2 separate regions of the Homo sapiens genome follow, and region 1 is linked to region 2. Evidence: fine-mapped expression QTL. A gene starts in region 2. The other region holds a variant in brackets. All regions are shown on one strand. Distances are from middle to middle.

The links. PIP is the estimated chance that this variant, and not a neighbour inherited with it, causes the effect.
Region 1: its variant is fine-mapped to the expression of SGSH in whole blood (INTERVAL, PIP above 0.99). The same link has a PIP of 0.9 or more in monocytes.

The regions. Positions count from the first base shown.
Region 1 is chr17:80,195,984-80,204,966 of GRCh38, forward strand. CARD14 (caspase recruitment domain family member 14) reads left to right here. Exons shown (of 24, transcript NM_001366385.1): 15 at 2,116-2,179; 16 at 2,416-2,608; 17 at 5,761-5,887; 18 at 6,197-6,437; 19 at 7,839-7,902; 20 at 8,244-8,358. It also overlaps a transcript of SGSH not described here. Among named protein-coding and RNA genes, the nearest start is that of SGSH, 20 kb to the right of the region's middle. RefSeq lists an enhancer at 8,603-8,983. The variant AT/A (reference allele first, on the strand shown) is at 4,246.
Region 2 is chr17:80,214,315-80,230,186 of GRCh38, forward strand. SGSH (N-sulfoglucosamine sulfohydrolase) reads right to left here and starts at 6,019. Exons shown (of 8, transcript NM_000199.5): 1 at 5,912-6,019; 2 at 2,718-2,878; 3 at 719-824; 4 at 301-451; 5 at 1-14. The coding sequence starts at 5,999. It overlaps SLC26A11 (solute carrier family 26 member 11), which reads left to right and starts at 6,113. Exons shown (of 18, transcript NM_001166347.2): 1 at 6,113-6,182; 2 at 6,602-6,801; 3 at 7,234-7,480; 4 at 8,341-8,533; 5 at 8,938-9,023; 6 at 11,523-11,602; 7 at 13,504-13,646. The coding sequence starts at 7,247. RefSeq lists enhancers at 5,061-5,180, 7,838-8,675, 8,676-9,513, 11,992-12,493 and silencers at 5,981-6,250, 6,271-6,340.

The DNA.
Region 1 (8,983 bases), 22 kb before region 2:
GCAGCAGGCAGGGTGGCTTAGTGGTGCCAGGCTGAGGCGAGGCACAGCGTGACATCTACCTGCGGGGAGCATCTCTCCTCTCAGGCGCTGGCCCTGAGGCCTCGCGCTTCTCCTGTAGCTCATTTCTGTTTGTGATTGGACCGGCCCTCTCTGCTTCCCAAGTCCATGGGCCCGTCATGGGTGGGTGCCTTAATCCTTTCCACCTCGGCGCGACCGGCTCCCAGCCTTGGGCCTTGCACACAGTAGGTGCTTTGCTCCCCATTTGGAATTCACCCCATGGCCACCAGGGGGCGCAAGTGCCCTGCGCTGCCCCTGTGCCTTCTGTGGGTCGCAGAATCAGAAATCTTCATCTTTGGGGACTCATACACGTTTTTATTTATAATCGTGATAAATCGAGAGAGACCACCCAAGGCATATCTAAATTAGATGTGAGATGAGAAGAGGGGCTTATTCCTCTTTATTTTTCCTCTGTGAGGATTCTGCGTAATGCCCTGGTTGCATATACTTTTAGTGGAATTGACCTCAAATACATCCAGAGTACACAGCTCATTTCATTGGCTTTGAATGTGATCCCAATGGGTTTTTGCCTGTGAGCCAGGCCTAGGGAACTCTCAGGTCTCTGCTGGCCCTGGCTCTGCTGTGTGGTTCACAGAGTGAGACTTGCAGCCGTCGACCCTGGCAGGCTGCTCCCTGGTTCGGGGGCTCACAGGCTGTACAGTAAAATGCTAGAGCTTGGGAGACCCTGGGGAGCCTCTAGTCCTAGGATTGACAACTCAGAGACCTGCCACCACCAGCTGGGAAGCAGAGGAGTCTGGGGTAAGGAGCAGGCAGCTGCTGGCCAGTGCCAGTGATTGCGGCCACACAGAAATGCAGGCCTGTGTGGAAATGCAGGCCAGTGTGGAAATGCAGGCCAGTGTGGAAATGCCGTGTAGTACAGTAGTGCAGGTCTGGGTAGAAATGCAGGTCCATGTTTGGGAGGTCAAGGTGGGCGGATCATGAGCTCAAGAGATCGAGACCATCTTGGCCAACATGGTGAAACCTCGTCTCTACTAAAAATACAAAAGTCAGCTGGGCATGGTGGCACACACCTGTAGTCCCAGTTAGTCAGGAGGCTGAGGCAGGAGAATCACTTGAACCTGGGAGGTGGAGGTTGCAGTGAGCCAAGATCGCACCACTGCACTCCAGCCTGGCGACAGAGCGAGACTCAGTCTCAACAACAATAACAACAACAACAAAAGAAATACAGATCCATGTAGAAAGGCAGGCCAGGGCCGGGTGTGGTGGCTCATGCCTGTAATCCCAGCACTTTGGGAGGCCAAAGTGGGTGGATCATGAGGTCAGGAGTTCGAGACCAGCCTGGTCAACATGGTGAACTCCCGTATCTACTAAAAATACAAAAATTATCTGGGCGTGGTGGCACATGCCTCTAGTCCCAGCTACTCAGGAGGCTGAGGCAGAAGAATTGCTTGAACCCGGGAGGCGGAGGTTGCAGTGAGCTGAGATCACGGCACTGTACTCCAGCCTGGGCGACAGAGTGAGACTCTGTCTCAAAAAAAAAAAAAAGAAAGAAAGAAAGAAAGAAAGACAGGCCAGTGCAGTGCAGGCCCACGCAGACATGGAGGTCAATGCAGTAATGCAGGCCAGTCCTGAAATGCAGGTCCATGCAGAAATACAGGTCAGTGCGGAAATGCAGCCCCAGGGTTACAGCAGATATTTTTTCAAGTGAAGCCAGAAATCCAGATTTTAGGTGAAACCTCCCTGTCTTTCAAATGTTGGCAACTCATTCAAATATCACAAAATAGCATGTGGTGGTCAGACCCTCCCAGTTGCAGCTCCTCACTAGTTACAGTGATTTTAGGAAAGATGAAATCAAGGTCCCAAGCATTGAGGAAGGGGTGGAGGAAGAGAAAGTTCAGCCTCAGCACAAAGGATGGAACAGGCAGTGGGGCCTGAGGCTGAGGGAGAAGGGGCTGAGGTTACAGGAGGTTACAGGACGCCCCATCAGCAGTGGGGTGACCAAGATCTGTGAAGAAGGGGCTGAGGTTACAGGAGGTTACAGGACGCCCCATCAGCAGTGGGGTGACCAAGATCTGTGAGCTCTTGGCTTCCTCCCAGACCTTCCGCAGCTGGAAAGCAGCCTGCAGCCAGTCTCCCCTGGAAGGCTTGATGTCTCGGAGAGGTAAGCAGCAGGTGGGAATCCTCCGAGGCTGGCTGGGGAACCAGGGCCAGGGAGTGGCAGAGCAGAGGGTGAGTGTCCTATTACCAATGGGAGGCAACAGCCTTTCCAAGCACATGGGGCCATGGAGGGGGAGGAGAATTCCAGAACACTGGGGCCAGAGGGAAGCAATGGGGAGGTGGCCTTGCCGGCTCTCCTGCTCTGGGCAGTGCACAAGCCGGTCGTCTCCCGGCCTGCAGCGGCGTCCTCATGCGGCGGAGGCCAGCCCGCAGGATCCTGAGCCAGGTCACCATGCTGGCGTTCCAGGGGGATGCATTGCTGGAGCAGATCAGCGTCATCGGCGGGAACCTCACGGGCATCTTCATCCACCGGGTCACCCCGGGCTCGGCGGCGGACCAGATGGCCTTGCGCCCGGGCACCCAGATTGTGATGGTGAGCCGTGCGAGGCCCCTCCTGTCCCCCGGGCTCCTCATGGGGACAGTGGCAGCGGGTGGGGTGACCCAGGCAGACTTCACCTCCCCCAGACGATGCAGATCCACTCTGGGCTGGGCCTCTGCTCTTTCCTGGGCTGACGTAAAGCGTTCTGCTCATTTATAGATGAGAGTCGTGCCGTGCAGAACCCAGCATGTCACCCGTGGTGCTGCTGCCATGCGGCGCTTCTGACCAGGGGTCTTTGCATGAGGCCCCTTGACAGGGCTGCTCTGGGTGGTCACTTTGGGTGTGTACAGTAAAATACACGTGACATAAAATTCACTATTTTAACCACTGGGGCATTTCTTTTCTTTCTTTTTTTTTGTTTGTTGTTTTGAAACAGGGTCTCACTCTGTCACCCAGGCTAGAGTGCTGCGGTGCGATCACAGCTCACTGCAGCCTCGACCTCCCCAGGCTCGATTGATCCTCCCACCTCAGCCTCTTAAGTAGCTGGGACCAGACCACAAGCATGCGCTACCGTGCCCGGCTAATTTGGGGACATTTTCTAAAACTTTTTTTTGTTGTTGTTACGAAACGCACAAAACTGCTGAGAAGATAAATGGACACAAATATACAACCTGGCCAGGTGTGGTGGCTCACGCCTGTAATCCCAGCAGAAGGCTGAGGCAGGCAGATCACTTGAGGTCAGAAGTTCAAGACCAGCCTGGCCAACACGGCGAAACCCCGTCTCTACTAAAAATGCAAAAATTAGCCAGGTGTGGTGGTGGGCGCCTGCATGGTCAGGGGGTGACTTTGATGTGGCCTAAAAGCAGAATTATTAAACTTTAGGAAAAAAAAAAACTTCTGGGCACAGTGGTACATGCCTGTAGTCCTAGCTACTCAGATGCCTGAGCCCAGGAGATTGAGGCTGCAATGAGCTAAGATTGCACCACTGCACTCGAGCCTGGGTGACAGAGCAAAGCCTTGTCTCAAAAAAAAAAAAAAAAAAAAGAAAAGAAAAAAAAAGGCCAGGCACGGTGGCTTATGCCTGTAATCCCAGCACTTTGGGAGGCTGGAGCAGGCAGATCACCTGAGGTTAGGAGTTTGAGACCAGCCTGGACAACATGGTGAAACCCCGTTTCTACTAAAAATACAAAAAAAAAAAAAAAATAGCTGGTATCTATAATCCCAGCTACTCAGGAGGCTGAGGCAGGAGAATCACTTGAACCTGGGAGGCGGAGGTTGCAGTGAGCTGAGATGGTGCCACTGCACTCCAGCCTGGGTGACAGAGTGAGACTCGGTCTCAAAAAAGAAAAAAAGAAAAGAAAAAGGAAAGCACAGTGCTTTCTTAATATGAAAAAAATTTTAAACCAAGAAATGTGCAAGATGGGCTTCACCTCATTCCAGAGGCTCACCCTGCGGCCTCCAGGAGGGGACTGGGGATGGGGGCTCTGGGGTGGGAAGGTGAGCACAGAGGCGGGGAGAGGATGCGTCTGAACCCCTCAGGCAGGAGTGTTCCATGCACCCCTCACTGCCCCCTTGGAACAGGCTGTCCAAATGCTGAGCTCCCCTAGGGCTCCAATGATAGCACATGGAGCACCTAATTCAAGCGTCCTTCACGTCCTCCACATGACCCGGGAAGCCTTTCTTTACATGTC[AT/A]TTTTTTTTTTTTTTTTTTTTTTTTGAGACAGAGTCTTGCTCTGTCGCCCAGGCTGGAGTGCAGTGGCTCGATCTTGGCCCACTGCAACCTCCACCCCCTGGGTTCAAGCGATTCTCTTGCCTCAGCCTCCCATGTAGCTGGGATTACAGGTGCCCGCCACCACACCCGGCTAACTTTTGTATTTTTAGTAGAGACAGGGCTTCACCATGTTGGCCAGGCTGATCTCGAACTCCTGACCTCAAGTGATCCACCCACCTCAGCCTCCTAAAGTGCTGGGATTACAGGCATCAGCCACCATGCCCAGCCCTTCTTTACATTTCTAGTTGTCCTCTTAAGCAGCAGTCCCCAACCTTTTTGGCACCAGAGACCGGCTTCATGGAAGACAACTTTTCCACAGACCGGGTTGTGGGGGATGGTTTTGGGATGATTCAAGCACGTTACATTGATTGTACACTTTATTTCTATTATTATTACACTGTAATATGTAATGAAAGAATCATACACTGAACCATAATTCAGAATCAGTGGGAGCCCTGAGCTTGTTTTCCTGCAACTAGACGGTCCCATCTGGGGGTGATGGGAGACGGTAACAGATCATCAGGAATTAGATTCTCATAAGGAGCGTGAAACCTAGATCCCTCACTTGCACAGTTCACGATAGGGCTCATGCTCCTCTGAGAATCTACTGCTGTGCTGAGCTGACAGGAGGTGGAGCTGAGGCCGTAATGCTCACTTGCCCACCACGCCCCTCCTGCTGTGTGACCCGGGTCCTGATGGACCATGGACCAGTACCAGTATGTGGCCCAGGGGTTGGGGAACCCTGCTCTTAAGGTTCCCAATTATCAGCTCTGAGGTAGTTCAAGCAACAGAGCCCCTTGACGATGTTCAGGGAGATAGTCCCGATATCCTAAGGGGGCCAATTAGATTCTAATGGTGTTAAAACACATCTTAATTTTTATTGTAAAAATATCTACTCTCCTAAGCTTAGAACAATATTGAGAAGAAATGAAGTGGATGGTGGAAGCCCTGGGGGGTGGGCCTTCACAGTGGGGAAGGCTGTGGGTGGAGAGCCAGGGCATCGGGTAGGTGAAGGCCAGGGATGCCACTCAGCATCCTGTAGGGCCCGGTATAGCCCGCAGCAGCACAGAATGATCCCAAGGCTAAGAAACCTCTATCTAGAATGCTCTTGAATGTTCTAGAACCGAGGTTCTTTCTTTTCTTTTCTTTTCTTTTTCAAGACAGGAAAGTGCTTATCACAAAGAACCCCCGATCTCGACTGGGGAAGGGTTGGCAGTTGACTCTCTGGCCAGCACTATGTGTAGCACGCATCACTAGAGGTGTGAAGGCCCCACAGAGGCTCTGGTGTGTGGCTTTGTTTTGACCAAGGCGTGCAGGCAGTGGTCCTACGGCAGGGCTGGCCCGCGCCTCGCCTCAGTGCCCTCAGCGCCTTCTGTCTTCTGGCTGGATTCAGAGTCCCGGGGGAAAGAGACTGACCTTCTCGACTTGCCCTCAGGTTGATTACGAAGCCTCAGAGCCCTTGTTCAAGGCAGTCCTGGAGGACACGACCCTGGAGGAGGCCGTGGGGCTTCTCAGGAGGGTGGACGGCTTCTGCTGCCTGTCTGTGAAGGTCAACACGGACGGTACACATACCACTCCTCTCGTGTGCACAGCTGCCTGGCCAGACTCCATGACCCTTAAGTCCCTGGTGGTTCTTCTGCACGCCCAGCAGCCAGGGACCCCCAGAGCCAAGAGAGGATCAGCCAGGCTGTGCCCCAGGTCCCCAGGAGGCCCCCAAGCCAGCTGGAAACCTCCCACCCACTGACTCCAGTGCCAGAGCAGCTTCTGAGACTGGGAGGGTCCTTCCTTCTCTCCTACTTTAATTTTCTGCAACCTTCCTCGCAGAGGCTCGTATCTGTGGCTCATCTGTGGCTCATGTCCCCTTTTATCAGGTTATAAGAGGCTACTCCAGGACCTGGAGGCCAAAGTGGCGACCTCGGGGGACTCATTCTACATCCGGGTCAACCTGGCCATGGAGGGCAGGGCCAAAGGGGAGCTGCAGGTGCATTGCAACGAGGTCCTGCACGTCACCGACACCATGTTCCAGGGCTGCGGCTGCTGGCATGCCCACCGCGTGAACTCTTACACCATGAAGGATACTGCCGCGCACGGCACCATCCCCAACTACTCCAGGTGAGCAGCTGCCTCGAGCTCGGTGCGTCCCCAGAGAGGCCCACAGGGAAATGGCACCCAGCCTGCCTCGGCTTCCTCCTCCTGCCCAGCAATAGAGGGTGGGCGTGGTGAGACCCCCCTAAGGAGGGAAGCCTGCCAAGATCACTGCTGAAGATGTTGTTTCTTTGTGATGGATGCTTTATATATTGCAAATGAAATGTTCATTCTAGAACATTCTAGATCTGGGTTTCTTAGCTCTGGGTTTCTTAGCTTTGGTACCATGGACGTTTGGGGCTGGATCCCCGTCTGTGGTGGGGCCGTCCTGGGCACTGCAGGATATAGAGCAGCATCCCTGGCCGCCCTACCCAGGATGCCGGGACTACTCCCATGCCCCAGCTGTGACAACCAGAAATGTCTCTATAGGTTGCCAAGGGTCCCCTGGTTCTCCTAGGACTGTCTTGGTCTTAGCACTGAAAGCCCCACTTGCAGGGAAGCCCCTCGGTCCTGGGCAAGCAGGGACAGCTGGTCACCCTCCCTGGGGAGTGACATTGCCCCCTGCCTTGCTCCATTGAAAACCACTGCTCTAGGCCGAGCATGGTGGCTCACACCTGTAATCCAAACACTTTGGGAGGCCGAGGCGGGTGGATCATCTGAGGTCAGGAGTTCGAGACCAGCCTGGGTAACCTGGTGAAACCCTGTCTCTATTAAAAATACAAAAAACTTAGCTGGGCGTGGTGGCAGGTGCCTGTAATCCCAGCTACTCAGGAGGCTGAGGCAGGAGAATCACTTGAACCCCGGAGGCAGAGGTTGCAGTGAGCCGGGATTGAGCCATTGCACTCCAGCCTGGGCGACAGAGTGAGACTCTGTCTCAAAAAAAAAAAAAAAGAAAAGGAAACCATTGTTCTAGATCAGCCTATGGGAGGCTCCAAGTTTCAAGTGCACGGAACGCACAGTGCTAGAAAGCAGGAGTGTTGAGCTCAGCACCCCCATCACTCATTGCAAACTCAAGTCCCCTGGGGATCGGAGCCAGCAGGTCCAGGGAGAGGCCTGGCACTCTGCATTTCTAACAGCTCTCTCGGTGACTCCAGGCTGCAGGCCAGGGACCCACCATGAATATTGAGGTCCTGGAGTGGGGCCCTGTACGCTGGCTGCTCAACAGCACCCCCTGGGTCCCGCCCCAGGACAAGTAAATCAGCATCTCCAGGGGTGGGCCGAGGCCCTGGAGTCTTTTGAAAGCTCTGGAGACTGGCATGGCCGCCAGGATGGAGCGCTCCAGCCTGCAGCAAAGGGATGTGTGGAGCTCTAGGTGGAGGCCCTTCTCTCCCACCCGGCCATCTCCCCCACTCTCCCCTGCTCGGCTCTCCCCTGCCCTGCTCACCTGGCAGGAGGCAGCTGGGTCAGGGCCTCTGCTGGTCTCTGCAGGGCTCAGCAGCAGCTCATAGCCCTCATCCAGGACATGACTCAGCAGTGCACCGTGACCCGCAAGGTGAGGCTCCAGGGAGGGGCCTGGACCCCACTGGGGTGGGCTGGAAGAGGGGCTCGGTGCTGGCAGGGTGGCAGGAGGCACTGTGTGGAGAGTGGGCTGCTGATTGGAGGGTAACCCCACCTGTCTCTCCTCTGCACCCCTTCAAACCAGGGCAGGGTCTGCAGCCCCTGCCCAGCCTGCAGGCTCTTGCACAAGTGCAGACACACCTCAGGCTGTTCTCAGAGCATCTGCGCCTCTGCATCACTCCCAGGTCGCCCTAGTGCCAATCATCTCCCCTGAATTCCCATTCCTGTTGATGGCTTCAACAGCTCCTCCTCATCCTTTCTCTGTCCCTCCTTTAGCCATCTTCTGGGGGACCACAGAAGCTGGTCCGCATCGTCAGTATGGACAAAGCCAAGGCCAGCCCTCTGCGTTTGTCCTTTGACAGGGGCCAGTTGGACCCCAGCAGGATGGAGGGTGAGGCCTGGTGAGCTGGCACAGGGGCCACTGGCTCCAAGTGGGTGAGGGGCTTTGGGAGCTGCTGCTAGTTGGTCAGCTGGGGCAGGGGGATGCCACTCATTTAGGCCAGGATCTGGTCTTCAAGAATCATGGGGCTGGGTGTGGTGGCGCACACCTGTAATCCCAGATACTCGGGAGGCTGAGGCAGGAGAATCGCCTGAACCCGGGAGGCAGAGGTGGCAGTGAGCCGAGATGGTGCCATTGCACTCCAGCCTGGGCAATAAGAGCAAAACTCTGTCTCAGGAAAAAAAAAAAATTTCAGGAGAGGAGTACAGGACAGAGGGAGGGCTAGGACCCTGTGCCCTGGAGGATGGCTGAGGAGAAGGGTGCCACTCTCCCAGATCCTTTGGAAGGAAGAAAACCCTGGCTTCCGCCATCCTCCCTTGGGCCTATAGGAAACAGGATTAAGTTGCAGGCTGCAAAGCAGTCCCTGGAGAGCCACAGAGCTGTGTAACCCCCGTGCAAAGGAGCCGCTCAGCCAGGGGCTATGGAACTGGGAGTGAGTCCTGTGACCGCTGAGCCTGTGCCCCTGGAATTCTAGGTGCTGGGGCTGCTGCAGTGAGCAAAGCAGACCCAGTCCCTC
Region 2 (15,872 bases):
AGAGGAAGAAAGGCCTGCACGGGAGGAGGCTCATTGCCAAGGCTGCGGGGCCACTGCCACGTGGCACAGGAAGCCCCTCGGCTCTGCCTCCTCCTCTGTATCTGGAAGTCAACCTGTGACCCTCACTGCCTCAGTTTCCCCACGTCCCTTCTCCCTCTGACCAGGCTAACTCGAGTACCTGGAACCTTCTCCCCTGCCCCCATTCGAGCCACGTGGGGGCCCATGCATCCCGCCGGAAGACTCCGGGCTGTGCTCTGGTACCGGCCGCCAGGGGGAAGGGGCAGGGGCCCCGACTCATACCGGTCATCCTGAGTCTGCAGGAATTTCCGGACGAGCAGCTTAATTCTAGTGATGTTCCGCCCCACCTGGAGGACGGAGCCATTCTCCTCCGTGTACGCAAAGTCAAACGGGTACACGGTCTCCGGCCCCACGTGCTTCTTCCCGATGATGCCTGGGCGGGAAGAGAGGCCTGGCCAGAGTCCCTTCAGCCTCCCAACCCTTTCTGCTCCCTTCTCTGCCCCTCTCGGCCCTAAGCGCACTGTGGGTTCTCGTGGACACACAGCCCAGCCAGGAGACCCAGGCCCAGATCCTTTGGGACAAGAGCTAAGGGCAGGCCACGGGGGCTGAGCGTGCCTTGGTACAAGGTGCCGAACCTCCTGGGCTCTGGCCTGGCCTCTGTGCCTCACCCCACGCCCTGTCCTCGGCACGGGGTCCTCACCTGTGCGCACACCAGCTTGGCTGAGCAGCAGCGGCAGGCTCCGCACCTTGTCGAAGGAGTTGAAGTGGTGCACGTCCTGGTGCAGCCCGTACATCCCATTCTGATGCTGCCAGCAAAGGCGCATGAGGTCCGGGGCCCCCGGACAGCCAGAGCCCGCCTGCCGCACCTGTTCTCCCACGGCCCTCCCATCCCCAGGGGCCTTCTCGGGGCCCTGATTTAGACTTCGAGTGGCCAGCACCCAGAGACACTGGCTGTACCTCCCACTCCCTGCCCGATAGGCCCATGGGTCCCTCCCGTGAAAGGAGGACTTCGCCAGAAAGAAGGGGACCTGCAGGGCGTGCACCGACACGAGGGTGGCCTTGATGTTCTTTTTGCGTATCCGTACTTTTGAACTCTTCTGTTATGATCACACGTTACAGAGTGAAAAAGACAGGGTCAGGCCTTGTTTTATTACCTAGTTATTTTATATTGTAAAAGATGTGTACATTTTAAAAACTCAGACTGCCGGCCGGGCGTGGTGGCTCACGCCTGTAATCCCGGCACTTTGGGAGGCCAACGCAGGTGGATCACGAGGTCAGGAGATGGAGACCAGCCTGGCCAACATGGTGAAACCTCGTCTCTACTAAAAATACAAAAATTAGCTGGGCGTGGTGGCGGGCGCCTGTAGTCCCAGCTACTCGGGAGGCCGAGGTAGGAGAATGGCTTGAATCTGGGAGGTGGAGGTTGCAGTGAGCCGAGATCACACCACTGCACTCCAGCCTGGGCAACAGAGTGAGACTAAAAGAACAAGTGTCCTTAAACACCCATGTTCATAGCAGCTTTATTCACAACAGCCAAAGGGTAGCAGCAACCCAAGTGCCCACTGACGGATGAATATGGAGAAGCAAAATACGGGGCCCATCCATCCACTGGAATATGAGTCAGCCCTGAAGAGGAGGGAAGTTCTGACTCGTGCTACAGCATATGGTTAACCCTGAGGACATTGTGCTGAGTGAAGTAAGGACACAAAAGGGGGGCCGGGCTCGGTGGCTCACGCCTGTAATCCCAGCACTTTGGGAGGTCGAGGCGGGCAGATCACTTGAGGCCAGGAGTTCGAAACCAGCCTGACCAACATGATGAAACCCCATCTCTACTAAAAATACAAAAATTAGACAGGCGTGGTGGCGCGCACCTGTAATCCCAGCTACTCGGGAGGCTGAGGCAGGAGACTCGCTGGAACCGGGGAGGCAGAGGCTGCAGTGAGCCACGATCGCACCACAGCACTCCAGCCTGGGTGACAGAGTGAGACTCCAACTCAAAAAAAAAAAGGACTAGTCCTGTGTGATTCCACTCTTATGTGGCCCCTGGAGCAGTCAGATTCATAGAGACAGGGGATGGGGAGGGAGAATGTGGAGCTGGTGTTTCATGGGACAGAGCTTCTGTTTGGGTAGATGGAAAAGTTCTGGAGATGGATGGTGGTGATGGCTGCATAACACTGTGAATGCACTTAATGCCCCGGAACTGTGCGCTGAAAAATGGCTAAGATGGGAATGTTGATGTTTGTGCATTTTACCACAGTAAAATAGGAGCATGTGTGCCTTAACGGTGTCCGCTCCCTGCACCATGGCGTTCCTGGGACACTGTGGCCATGGCGGTTCACGCTGAGTGAGCCCACCAGGCCTCGCACTAAGTGTTTACATACAAAGCATTAGCCCCGCCAATCTCCATAACTAGAGTGGCATCTCATTACACCCACCATCTTACAGATGAGGAAACTGAGGCACAAGGAGGTAGGTGACTTGCTCAAGGCCACACACAGCAGTGCAGCCAGGGCTGGCGGGTGAGTCGGAGCCCCTAGTCTGCACTCACAGCCATAGGCTGTGCCTCCTCCTGGAGGTGGGAGGGAAAGTGGGCAACACCCCCCGGGATCCCAGGGATGGGAGACGTGGCAGAGGCCTGGGCCCCGGACGCAGCCTGTCTACTCCCTGCCCACCCCCTCCTCCCGCCCCTTGCACCTCACCTGGGGCAGGCCAGTGAGGAGGCTGGCGCGGCTGGGAGAGCAGCTGCTGACCGAGGTGAAGGCATTGCGAAAGAGGAGGCTGCGGCGGGCCAAGGCGTCCAGGTGCGGGGTGGCGATGGCGCTGTTGTTGTACGCGCCACTCTCAAAGCCTCCGTCATCCGCTGCGTGAGGTGGGAGACAGAGAGTGCACGGTCGGCTGCGGTCACGAGAAACAGCACTGGGAGTGAGGGAGGCTGGGACTGTGATGCCAGAAGGCGAGACACCCAGGTGGGCATGGTACTGGCTCAGTGTGAACACTCAGCGCGAAATGCTATCGTGACAGAGCACTCCATTACCTAGGAGGCATGACACCCGAGTGGGTACATCAGGCAAGCATGGTATCAGAGGGCATGTTAGCAGGTCTCATACTTGGTGGGTATGTTAGCAGGCAGGCATGTATCCAGAAGACCCCATACCCACTGGGTATGTTAGCAAGAAGGCATGGTACCTAGTAGGCACAATACCTGGTGGGTATATCAGCAAGCAGGCAGGGTGCCCAGGCAGGCCTGATACCCAGTGGGTATGTTGGCAGGTGAGCATGGTATGGAGGCTGGACTGATTGATAGATGGTGGGTATGTTGGCAGGTGAGCATGGTATGGAGGCTGGACTGATAGATGGTGGGTATAAGCAGGTAGGCATGGTACCCAGGCAGGCCTGATACCAGTGGGTATGTTAGCAGGTAGACTGGTATCCAGCAGGGATGATGCGTGGTTGGTATGTTAGCAGGCAGGCATGGTATCCAAGTGGGCATGATAAGCAGGCATCATACCACAATAAGCTTGATGATACCCTAAGCAGGCATGATACCCGGTGGGTATGTTGGCAGGTGGGCATGGTACACAGGCTGGACTGATAGCTGGTGGGTATAAGCAGATGGGCATGGTACCCAGGCAAGCCTGGTACCTGCATAGGCATGTTAGCAGGCAGGCATGGTACCCAAGTGGGCAAGATACTCATGCAGGCATGATGACCCAACAAGCTTGATGATACCCCAGCAGGCATGCTACCTGGGTGGGCGTGTTAGCCGGCTAGGCATTTAGGCAGACAGCGGCTGAGCGCATGGCCACAGAACTGCTGGGCAATTCTGGGCTCAGCGGAAACCGCATGGGGCAGAGGGCAGGAGAGCCTCGCCCAGGGCGCGTCTAAAGCTCTATGTGTGTGCGTCCCACCGCTGCTTCTCACTGATGCCATCTCAAAGGCCTAGTGACCTTGCAGGTTGTCTATTTCAACCCTTTCATCCTACACAAAGCAGCTGAGGCCCAGAAAGGTGAGGTGCAGTGCCCAGGGCCACACACTGGGCAGCAGGAAACAGGGACAGGCCGCTGAACTCCTACAACCACACCAAGCTTCTTCCCCCTGCTCTGGAGTAGAGGACACTGGGGGCACCACAGGAGAGGCTGGTGGGAACCCCCAGACCAACACTTTCCCCAGCTCCCTCAGAGGCAATGTGGTCCATGGATGGACAGAGGAGGCTGGGCACCTTCCAGTTGGGCTTCCATCCTCCACCCCACAGTACCCACAGGTGTGAGCACATGGCAGCCACGTAAACCTGGAGGGAGAGCGGGATGGGCTGTGCTCCGTACCCGCAGGCCAGGAAGAAAGCTGCCCTTCTCCAAACCCAGAGTGTCTCGGCACTTGGCTGTGGGCCTGCTATGGTCTGAACTGTGTCCTCCCAGAATTCATATGCTGAAGCCCTAACGTCAACATCACTGTATCTGGAGACAGGGTCCTTAATTAAGGGTAAATGAATCATAAGGATGAGATCCTGATCTGACAGGACTGTGGACTTAAAGGAAAAGAAAGAGAGGGCCGGGTGCAGTGTTTCATGCCCGTAAGCCCAGCACCCGGGAGGCCAAGGCAGGAAGATTGCTTGAGCCCAGGAGTTCGAGACCAGTCTGGGCAACACAGTGAGACCTTGTCTCTACAAAAAATACAAAAATTAGCCAGGCATGGTGATGTGCACTTGAGGTCCCAGCTACTTGGGAGGCTGAGGCAGGAGGATCGCTTGAGCCTGGGAGATTGAGGCTGCAGTGAGCTGTGATTGTGCTACTGTGCTCCAGCCTGGGTGACAGAGTGAGACCCTGTCTCACAAAAAAAAAAAAAAAAAAAAAAAAAGGAAAGAAAGGAAAAAGAAAGGAAAAGGAAGTGAGACCACCCCCATCCGCTTGTCATGTGAGGAAACAGTGAGAGGGTGACCACCTGTAAGCCGAAAGTGGACCCTCACTGGAACCCAACCAAGCTGGCACCCTGACCTTGGATTTTCAGCCCACAGAACTGTGAGAAATACATTTCTGTTTAAGCCGATCCATGGCAGTCCGTGCTAAGAAAGGCCCTAGCCCAGGGGCCGCATAGCCTGGACTCTGACAGCCTCCTGTAGGAATTCTGATCCGCAGGTGAGGGTCCATGCAGATTCTCTGCTGTGTTTCTGGGAGGCGAGGAGTTGGCAGGAGAGCTGTTTATGTTACAGTGAGCCGAACCCCCGCCCAGAGACCACAAAATTAATCAGAAAGAGGGCAACTGGCAGGGCGCCAGACCTCAGAAGGGGAAAGAATCGCAGGCCTTGGGTTTGGCCTTGTCACTTGTCATGAGCCAGAGCCTTGATTACCTAAACCGGAAGTCTTGTGAGCAGCACGGTGCTTGCTCTGGAGGAACCTGGGGTTTCTGAGAGGGACTGGGGTTGGGGGAGACGGTGGTGGGTGGGTGGTGGAGGGCTGTGCCCTTGGGATAAGGGAAAAGACAGCTGAGACACAGGCTCTGGGGTCGGAAATGAGAGCCAGGAGGGCACCCTGTCTGCAGTCTCTGGGGACCGGAGCACCAGCCCCTCCTCTGGGATCCCCTCCCAAGAGGGATTTGAGATCCGTGGACCCCTGAGCCCTGGCTGGGCAGGGTCAGAGGAGGGTGGGACAGGCGGCACGAGGTAAGTGTAGGGGTGCTGGATGCTGGGGCTCACTCCTCCAGCCTTTGCTGCCCTCTCTGGGGAGACACCCGTGAAGAGTCTGGGGGCGGCACAGAGAGGAGGACGAGAGGGAATGGCAGCGGGGGATACAAGGGCAGGGCACACTAGGGTCAGCATTGACCACGGGTGGGGAGGAGGCCAGTGGCCACTTCCCCGGGCCACCGCAGGTGGGCGTGGGGGGGCGGCGCCGGCACTCACCGAGGAGCAGCAGTGCGTTCCGGGGACGCGCCCGGCAGAGCCCCAGGACTAGCAGCAGCGCGCAGCAGGCGGGCACGGGGCAGCTCATGGCGGCGGCGGCTCGGACTCGGGATCGGGATCCGGCTCCGGCTCTCTGGTCTCCCGCTCGGCCCCGCCCCCTGCCCCGACCCCGGTCACGTGCGCGCCAGACCCCGCCCCGGCCTGTCCCCGGCGATTCCTGCGGACCCAGCTGCGGCGACGCCAGGAGACCCCAAGCTGCATCGCCGAGTGGGTGAGTCCGTGGCCCGCGAGGGCGGCGAGCGGGGACCAGGGGCAGGGGGAGCGGACAGTGGCCGGGGTCGCCGGGGGCAGCCGACGCGGGGGCCAGCGCGGAGTCCTGAAGTGCGGGGGCCTCCCGTGGGGACCACTCCCCCGCCGCGTCCCTACCCGGGTCCCCGCGGCCCTCGGCCTTGCTCGGGGCCAAGGGACCGCGGACGGTCAGGTGGCGCAGGGTCTCCTCCGGAGACCCCAGGATCCGGAGCCAGCGGCCTTGTGGGCGGGGCCGGGGGCCGGGGAGTGGATTTTGCCCGGAGCGGAGCGGCCGGGGGCGTGGGGGGCTGGGGGTGAGGGTGGCGGCTCTGCGCGCGGGCGCCGGGGCCCTGGAAGATGCTGCGCACCTGAATTAACCGGGCGCCTCTGATGTCCTCCCAGAAGCAACTAGAACTCCAGGGCTGTGAAAGCCACAGGTGGGGGCTGAGCGAGGCGTGGCCTCAGGAGCGGAGGACCCCCCCACTCTCCCTCGAGCGCCGCAGTCCACCGTAGCGGGTGGAGCCCGCCTTGGTGCGCAGTTGGAAAACCTCGGAGCCCCGCTGGATCTCCTGGCTGCCACCCGCACCCCCCGCCAGCCTACGGTGCGCCCGCGGGCCCAGCTTCTCTCTGCGCTGCTCCCCGTTAAATTCCCTGGGGAGACGGAAAAAAAGGCAAAGGAAGTCGGTTCTCCAGGGGCCAGAAGTGTTGAGCCTAATTAGTCTTCAGACTTCTCAATGAGGAATCGCTTATCAGTTTCTTATCTGGGAGAGTTGAGGATGGAGGGACAGAAGGCACCCAGGATTTGCACGGGGGGGATTCAGGGAGAGAGGGTGATGAGGGACGGGGTGGGCCTTCCAGTCTTGGCCCAGTCCCCATCTTGCACACATTGTTGGCTTCCTCTTAGAGCCGTTCGCCCCCCTGGGGAGGGGAGACCCATAGTGACCTCTCCTGACACCCGCCGACCCTGACCAGTGTTGCCGGGTTCTTCAAAGGCCACGCTCTGACTGCTGGTCTGTGTCACCTGCACCCCCCAGCCCCACCGTAGAGATGCCTTCTTCGGTGACGGCGCTGGGTCAGGCCAGGTCCTCTGGCCCCGGGATGGCCCCGAGCGCCTGCTGCTGCTCCCCTGCGGCCCTGCAGAGGAGGCTGCCCATCCTGGCGTGGCTGCCCAGCTACTCCCTGCAGTGGCTGAAGATGGATTTCGTCGCCGGCCTCTCAGTTGGCCTCACTGCCATTCCCCAGGCGCTGGCCTATGCTGAAGTGGCTGGACTCCCGCCCCAGGTGAGGCGTCTGACCCTGCTGCCAGCCATATCTCAGAAACAGTGCAGAATACACAGTATCAATCCCAGACACCATCAGCGATTCCAGGTTTCCAGCCCCTGGGCCCCAAGGAACCTTTGGTTTACAGTGTGTGACGCAGATTGTCTCTGGGCCGACCCAGGCTCCTATGCCTGTTTGGCACACACAGACACTGAGCTGGTTATGGAGGGGCCAGCGAGATGACTCATGGAGGCCTCAGGAGTTCAAGACCAGCCCGACCAAAATGGTGAAACCCCGTCTCCACTAAAAATACAAAAATTAGGCTGGGTGCGGTGGCTCAAGCCTGTAATCCCAGCACTTTGGGAGGCCGAGGCAGGCGGATCGCAAGGTCAGGAGATGGAGACCATCCTGGCTAACAGGGTGAAACCCCGTCTCTACTAAAAATACAAAAAATTAGCCAGGTGTGGTGGCGGGTGCCTGTAGTCCCAGCTACCTGGGAGGCTGAGGCAGGAGAATGGCGTGAACCCGGGAGGCGGAGCTTGCAGTGAGCCGAGACTGTGCCACTGCCCTCCAGCCTGGGCGACAGAGCGAGACTCCATCTCAAAAAAAAAAAAAAAGAATGCTTCCTCAGACTTGGACACAGCACACGGGCCTGCACCGACCCCTCTGCCTGGCTGTCTGCACCCTGAGGCCCCAGTTGAGTGCTGCTAAAAAAGTGGCCTCCTGATCACTGCAGGTCCACCCACAGGGCAGGGCGGTGCACCTTTAACCTGGGCCTGGACACAGCTGACACCCACACATCCCGAGCTTGGACACGCACACTAGGGAGCTGGTGGATGGGCCTCGGCCTCCTGAGTGCTCACCACCCTCTCTCCCCACAGTATGGCCTCTACTCTGCCTTCATGGGCTGCTTCGTGTATTTCTTCCTGGGCACCTCCCGGGATGTGACTCTGGGCCCCACCGCCATTATGTCCCTCCTGGTCTCCTTCTACACCTTCCATGAGCCCGCCTACGCTGTGCTGCTGGCCTTCCTGTCCGGCTGCATCCAGCTGGCCATGGGGGTCCTGCGTTTGGGTGAGGCTCTACCTTCTTGCCAAGGGGATGCCCTCGACCTCAGCATTTGCTTGTTTGCATTTCAAGTCTATCCCCGTGTGCGTGTGTGTGCGTGTTGGGGTGTGGGTATGTATGTGTGTGTGTGTAGGTGGGTGGGTGGTGGAGGGGGTGGGGCACTTGGCTCTTAGTCTACTCTTTTCTGCTTAGAGGCCAGGACACTTGGAGAAGTGCCTGTGGCCTCAGACCCCAGTCTCCCTTTTCTGCTCTCCAAAAACAGCCAAACAGGGTGTGTTACCCCCAGTCCTTAGCTGCGGTATCTGCTCCCCAATCCCACCCATTGCCACCTTCCCCAGCTCACATCTCCCCTCATCCTCTGGGACTGGGTGGAGCCGGGACCAGCTCGATGTCCCCTCTTGGCTGGCCAGGGTTCCTGCTGGACTTCATTTCCTACCCCGTCATTAAAGGCTTCACCTCTGCTGCTGCCGTCACCATCGGCTTTGGACAGATCAAGGTAGGCACGGCGCCCACCCAGGGCACTGCTCTTTGGCCACTGCTCGTTGGCACAGGGATGGCGGGAGCAGGACTGAGGCCAGTCCTGATCCCTGTGGCCAGTGGACGTCTTGCTGTTTCAGATTGTCTTCCATGGGTCAAGAAGCACGCGGTGCTCTCATGGGTCCCCTGTTAATAAAATGACCCTCCTGGGAGGGATGTCACGTGATGGTTGGATTTCACAGCGGGTAACTTGGGGGCCGGTAATTCCATCCCCCTGCTCTTGCCCGAGTTTCCGTGCCAGTGTGCTTGGCTGGCTCTGTGACGTGGCTCTGTTCTCCCTGCACTGGGCACACCCAGCAGGCCCCACCAGTCATGAGCATGCTGCTAGAATTTCTATAGGCAAATTATTTCCCCATGCCAATTTAGTTAGATGGTTTTGTTTTGTGCTTTTTTTTCTGGTTTCTGTTTAATATTTTTTAAATGCCATGCCTTTTATATTTTCTTTTAAAACATTTATAATAAGTACTAAAATCAGTCATCAGCTGAGGGTGTAATTTATTCTGTTTTTGCTGGGTTGTAAGTTCCTCGAGGGTAGGAACTGTCCTTCTCCCAGCCATGGCCGCCCAGCATTGGGCTGGTGCAGTAGGGGGGTGCTCAGTGGGGTGTGTGTGGAGTGAAGTGAGCCCAATTCCACAGATGGGACCATGCGGCCCTCATGGCAGACTAGGGTCACATGCTGCCTCCTGACCCTGTGTCACTGCAGGTCATCTTCCCCAAGCCAGGCCCTGTTCCAGGCTGGCCTGAGACAGTCTTCCCTGATGGAGGTACCATGAGAAGACCAAGGACAGGAGAGTGTGTGTGAGAGTGTGTATGAGTGTGTGTGAGTGTGTGAATGAGTGAGTGTGTGAGAGTGTGAGTGGGTTTGAGGGAGTGTGTGAGTGTGTGCGTGTGTGAGTGAGTGCGTGTGTGAGTGAGTGTGCGTGTGTGTGTGAGAGAGTGTGAGTGTGTATGAGTGAGAGTGTGAGAGTGGGTGTGGGTGTGAGGGAGTGTGAGTGCGCGCGCGCGTGTGTGAGTGTATGAGTGTGAGAGTGAGTGTGAGTGAGTGAGAGTGGGTGTGGGTGTGAGAGTGTGAGTGTGAGAGTGTGAGTGTGTGAGTGTGAGAATAAAGTAGACACTTTTTGCACTCTTGCTACGTGCGAGGCACTGGGCAGGACACTCTCCATGTGTAATTCTCAACACACCCCGGGAGGTAGATTTATCATTATTTCCATTTGAGAGAGGAGGGACCAACTTAGGTGTGGGTGAGCGTGATTTGTACGTTATCTACACGCATCTCTCAGGGTTAGCTTGGCAAATGCTGTTTCAGGGCATGGTTGGTTCTTTAATCTGGAAACATCATTTTTGGTGTCAAGAATGTTCTTTTGTAGGATCCCAGTGAGAGTGGAGAGCGGAGAGTGGAGAGTGGAAGGCATCCCTTGTTCATGCCTTCATACTTGGCAACCCTAGCCCCGCCCAGGGACTCTGCAGCCATCTGGGGGGAGGGGCGTCCTCCTGACAGGCCCAGGACAGAAGACCCTACCCCAACAGTCCCAGAGTCCGCCCCCCAGGATGTCCTAACCCCACCCACCCTGTGCGCAGCAGTTTTAGGGCAGGGTCCTTGAGCCTGTGGCCATGGGATCCAGGGCCTCAACTTTCCCCTCTGACTCCTGTTGGGTCTCAGGCGATGTAAAGAACTAAAGTGCAAGCTGTGCCTGCACTGTGGATCCCAGCTACGTGGGAGGCCGAGGTGGGAGGATCACTGGAGCCCAGGAGTTCGAATCCAGCCTGGGCCACAGAGCAAGCAAGACCCCCACCCCCCAACCCCCCGCCGCTCTCTAAAGAAAAAAAAACTAAACTAAAACACAGGATAGAGTGCCTTCTCCTGCCCAGGACCTCAGAGCTGGTATCGTGGTGGGAGGCTCCTACTTTGCCGAGGATTCCCCAAGCTGGTTTCTTGAAGCCCCTCAGAGCCCTCCACATCTGCACACTACGAAGAGATTTTTCCTCCCGCAGCAGCGGAGCTGGGGGGTGGCGGGGCACCTAGTGAGGGAGACATTCTCAAGCCAATGGCAGCAAGGGTCTACACTGCAGGGGGCCTGGCTGCTGAGTGGCCTGGAGCCAATGGGGGTGGGGCCAGGCAGCCCATGGCCCCTGGCCATCAAGCTGTAGAACCTGTCTGCCTGCTGTGGGGTCACCTACATTGTTTTTTATGAGAAAAGTAATTTAGAGAAAAACATATCACTGACCCAGTAATTGTGAAGTACTGTCTCCCACGAGGGTAGCTTTGATCTCCTGCCCTAGGGGGCGTTGGGAGTGGGCAGGTGGACCCCTGAGCCCCTAAGATGGGCCCCGGGAATAAGGGTTGGGAGCAGGGCCGGGGGACACTGTCTCAGCCCTAGGGGAGGTGGGCGGGGAGCTGGGGACAGATGGCCTTGGTTTGGGAGCATAGCCTCTGATCAGCATCTCTGTGTTTGGACAGAACCTGCTGGGACTACAGAACATCCCCAGGCCGTTCTTCCTGCAGGTGTACCACACCTTCCTCAGGATTGCAGAGACCAGGTACCCCGGGCTTTGTTCCTCCCTCCTATAAGGAAGCTCCTTCTTCCACACCTCCTCTCCCGGCCCCCACCTCAGTTTCCCCACCCCTGGTGACTGCTCAAACAGGGGTCCCCAGAGCAGCCCCATCAGCAGCACCTGCAAGCTGGCAAGAAATGAGACTCTCAGTCCTTTGCAGACCTGCCCTATCAGAGCCACAGTTTTAACAGGAGGCCGGTGGTCTGCGCGCAGGGGAGAGTTCAAGAAGCTCTGCTCTGGGGAGCTGGAGCAGGGCAATGTTCCTCTCTCCACAAAGCTTTCTTGGGGGACAGGAATGGGGAGAGTCTGTGTAAAGAAAAAGAAGGCAGTGTGTCTCCCCCAGGCTGTGATTTGTTAAGGAGGAGAACACAGGGCGTGGGGAGCTAACCCAGACAGAACGCAGGTGGTGCAGGGACGGCAGGTGGAGCTGTGATGAGAGATGAGGCGACCCAAGCACTTCCCTCAGGTGGTTTAAAGAGCCTCTGATGGCCGGACACTGTGGCTCACACCTGTAATCCCAGCACTTTGGGAAGCCCAGGTGGGCAGATCATCTTAGGTCAGGAGTTCAAGACCAGCCTGGTCAACATGGTGAAACTCCGTCTCTACTAAAAATACAAAAATTAGTCGGGTGTGATGGTGCGTGCCTGTAGTCCCAGCTGTTCAGGAGGCTGAGGCAGGAGGATTGCTTGAACCTGTGAGGCGGAGGTTGCAGTGAGCTGAGATCACGCCACTGCACTCCAGCCCGGGTGATAGAGTGAGACTCCATCTCCGCCCTGCCCTGCCCCCCCGAAAAGAAAAGCCTCTGATGAGGGGTACCTCCCTGCCAGACCATCCAGCGGGAAGGCAGGATGCCTCTCTACCTCTCTGGCTGGAAGGGGCTGGAGGAGGAAATGATCTAGGGGAGCTATAGAGATGGCTGCCCAGTGCTGTGGCCTGGAGGGAGTGGGGGCGATCCTGGACCATCTTCCCCTCCCCTCTGATCTGCTGCCGAAGCTTCCCAGCAGCTGAACCCAGCTGGAAGCCAGTGGGTTCTTTGCTCTTCAGAGGCACCAGTGGGCAGGGGTCGGCCAGATGGGGGAGCAGTGATTACGGAGCCTGACCAGTCAGAGAGCGTCACGGGCTGTCATGTAAAAGGGGCCTTACTGACCGTTTAGTCCTAAGCCTTCTAGAATGTCTAGAGCAGGGTGTCCAGTCTTTTGTCTTCCCTGGGCCACACAGGAAGAATTGTCTTAAAATACACTAATGATAGCTGATGAGCTACAAAAAAATCATTGAAAGAACTCATAATGTTTTAAGAAAGTTTACAAATTTGTGTTGGGCCACATTCAAAGCCATCCCAGGCTGCACATGGCCCACAGGCTGTGGGTTTGGCAGACTTGTTCTAGAGCCACCTGCAGAGAGCATCAGCTGCTCAGGCTGGTCCCCATTCCCTGTGGTCACTCACCAGATCCTGTTCCATAGACTTGAGTCCCAGAGAGCTACGGGAGTGAAAATGTGAGCACGTCGCTCTGCCATCATCATGACCCGGGCCTCTCCACTGCCTGTCCTGCCCAAGCCTGTGTACTTACTGAATTTTGAATTGAGTTTTGAAGTAGAACAGGGATGCATATTGCTTAGGAGAAAACATCTCAGCCTAGTCTGTGTTTGGTCTTGCAGAGTAGCTTGCTAAAGTTCCTGAGCTTTAGTTAAGTGTCTGTGAAATGGTGAAAATATTGAAAATGCTTTATTTCCTTGTGATACTCACTGTGGTCTGGGACCAGCAGCCTGGGCATTGGGCCTCCCTGGGAGCTTCTTAGTGCCTCTCAGCTTAAGCAGCAGCAGGATGCTTGAGTCAGCAGTAGGCCTGGGCCGAGCTGGGTGGTGACCAGTCCTCTGCCTGTCCACAGGGTAGGTGACGCCGTCCTGGGGCTGGTCTGCATGCTGCTGCTGCTGGTGCTGAAGCTGATGCGGGACCACGTGCCTCCCGTCCACCCCGAGATGCCCCCTGGTGTGCGGCTCAGCCGTGGGCTGGTCTGGGCTGCCACGACAGGTGAGGGGCCTCTGGCTGACATCTTATGCAACCTTGGCTGCAGGTTGGGGTCACTTGGGGAGTCCTAGTCCCACCCTAGGGATTCTCACGTCATTGGTCTGGGTGTCACTTGAGCATTGGGACATTTAAAACACCACACCAAACTCTGGGACATGTACTTTTTATTTAATTAATTAATTAATTATTTTTTGAGACAGAGTTTCGCTCTGTCGCCCAGGCTGGAGTACAGTGGTGTGATATTGGCTCACTGCAACCTCCGCCTCCCAGGTTCATGTGATTCTCCTGCCTCAGCCTCCTGAGTAGCTGGGATTACAGGCGCATGCCACCACGCTCGACTGATTTTTGTATTTATAGTAGAGACGGGGTTTCACCATGTTGACCATACTGGTCTCAAACTCCTGACCTCGAGTGATCTGCCTGCCTCGGCCTCCCGAAGTGCTGGGATTACAGGCATGAGCCACCGCCCCGACCCAAACTCTAGAACATTTAAAACTCTGAGCCAAACTCGGTGGGTTCTGATGCAGGGTCAGAGCTGAGAACTGATGCATGGCCAGCTGTGGCCGTTCTCAACCTGAAGCAGTTTTGCCCCCTGGTGACACGTGGCAATGTTGGGAAACATTTTTGGTGGATACCACCGGGCGAGGCAGTTGCTGGCAACTAGCGAGGAGGGGCCAGGAATGCCACTAAGCCCCTGACGGCGCACAGCCTTCCACAGCAAACAGTGATCCGGCCCAAAATGTCGGCGGTGCCGAGGTGGAGAAACACAGTCTACTGGCAGGTCCTGGGGAGACAGAACAAATTCCGGGGAGACCAACAGGCTCTGTTTGAATTGTGCAGCTTTATGGGGGTACAACTTCAGCTTCAGGCGCGGAGGCTGCAGGCTGAGCCACAACCAACCAGGGGTCCTTTGAGAAAGGGGTGGTGAGGGCTGCGTCGTGGAGGAGCAGGGCTGTCAGCAGGTGAAGGACCACCCTGGGGGAGGTGGAAGCCTCTTCTCAGTGCATCCGGGATGGGCATGGGTCCCCTGGCTGAGCACCGGGCAGGGATGCCCAGAGAAGAAGGCACACCCAGGAAAGTCAGGAAGCATAGGTGACTCCAAACCTTCTCAGAGCCGAGGGGACAGATTAAGCTCAGAATAACCCGAGCTTGGTCTTGCTGTTTGGGGGCTGCAAAATCCAACAGCCACAGAAGAGAGAGGGTGGCTGGATTTAGCTCTTGAGTCACTTCTGCCTGCCCAGGCTGGTCTGTTCTCTGTGGTCTCTCCCTGGATCCTGTTCAGCAGACTTGAGGCCGTGGTGAACACTGAGAGTCTGGTGGGGTGCAGAGGATGCTGGGTTTAGAGTGGAGATGTCCAGCTTCCAGTCCCAGCCTGGCCTGGGTTTAGACTTGCAAAGTAGCTTCCAAAGTTCCTGAGCTTTAGTTCAGTTGTCCGTGAAATAGTGAAAATGCTTTGTTATCTTTGTTATCTTTTGTTTTTTGGTTTTTTTTGGAGACGGTGTCTCACTCTGTTGCCCAGGCTGGAGTGCACTGGCGTGATCTTGGCTCACTGCAACCTGCCTCCTGGTTTCAAGCAATTATCCCGCCTCAGCCTCGCGAGTAGCTGGGATTACAGGCGTGCACCACCACACCTGGCTAATTTTTGTATTTTGAGTAGAGATGGGGTTTCACCATGTTGGCCAGGCTGGTCTCGAACTCCTGACCTCAAGTGATCCGCCCGCCTCAGCCTCCCAAAGTGCTGAGATTATAGGCGTGAGCCACTGCGCCTGGCCTATGCCTTGTTATCTTAAACCTTGAGACTCAGAGTGTGGCCTGGGACCAGCAGCCTGGGCACTGGGCATCTCCTGGGAGCTTACTGGAAAGGCAGGATCTCAGGCCCCACCCCAGATCTCCGAATCAGGATCTGTATTCTTCAGGGCACGCCCAGGGGATTCATGGGGTCAGCTTAGAAGTCAAAGTTTGGAAGCCGGGCATGGTGGCTCACGCCTGTAATCCCAGCACTTTGGGAGGCCGAGGGAGGCAGATCACCTGAGGTCAGGAGTTTGAAACCAGCTTGGCCAAACCCCGTCTCTACTAAAAATACAAAAATTAGCTGGGTGTGGTGGTGTGTGCCTGTGATCCCAGCTACTTGGGAGGCTGAGGCAGGAGAATCACTTGAACCCGGGAGGCGGAGGTTATAGTGAGCCAAGACTGCACCACTGCACTCCAGCCTGGCAACAGAGCGAGACT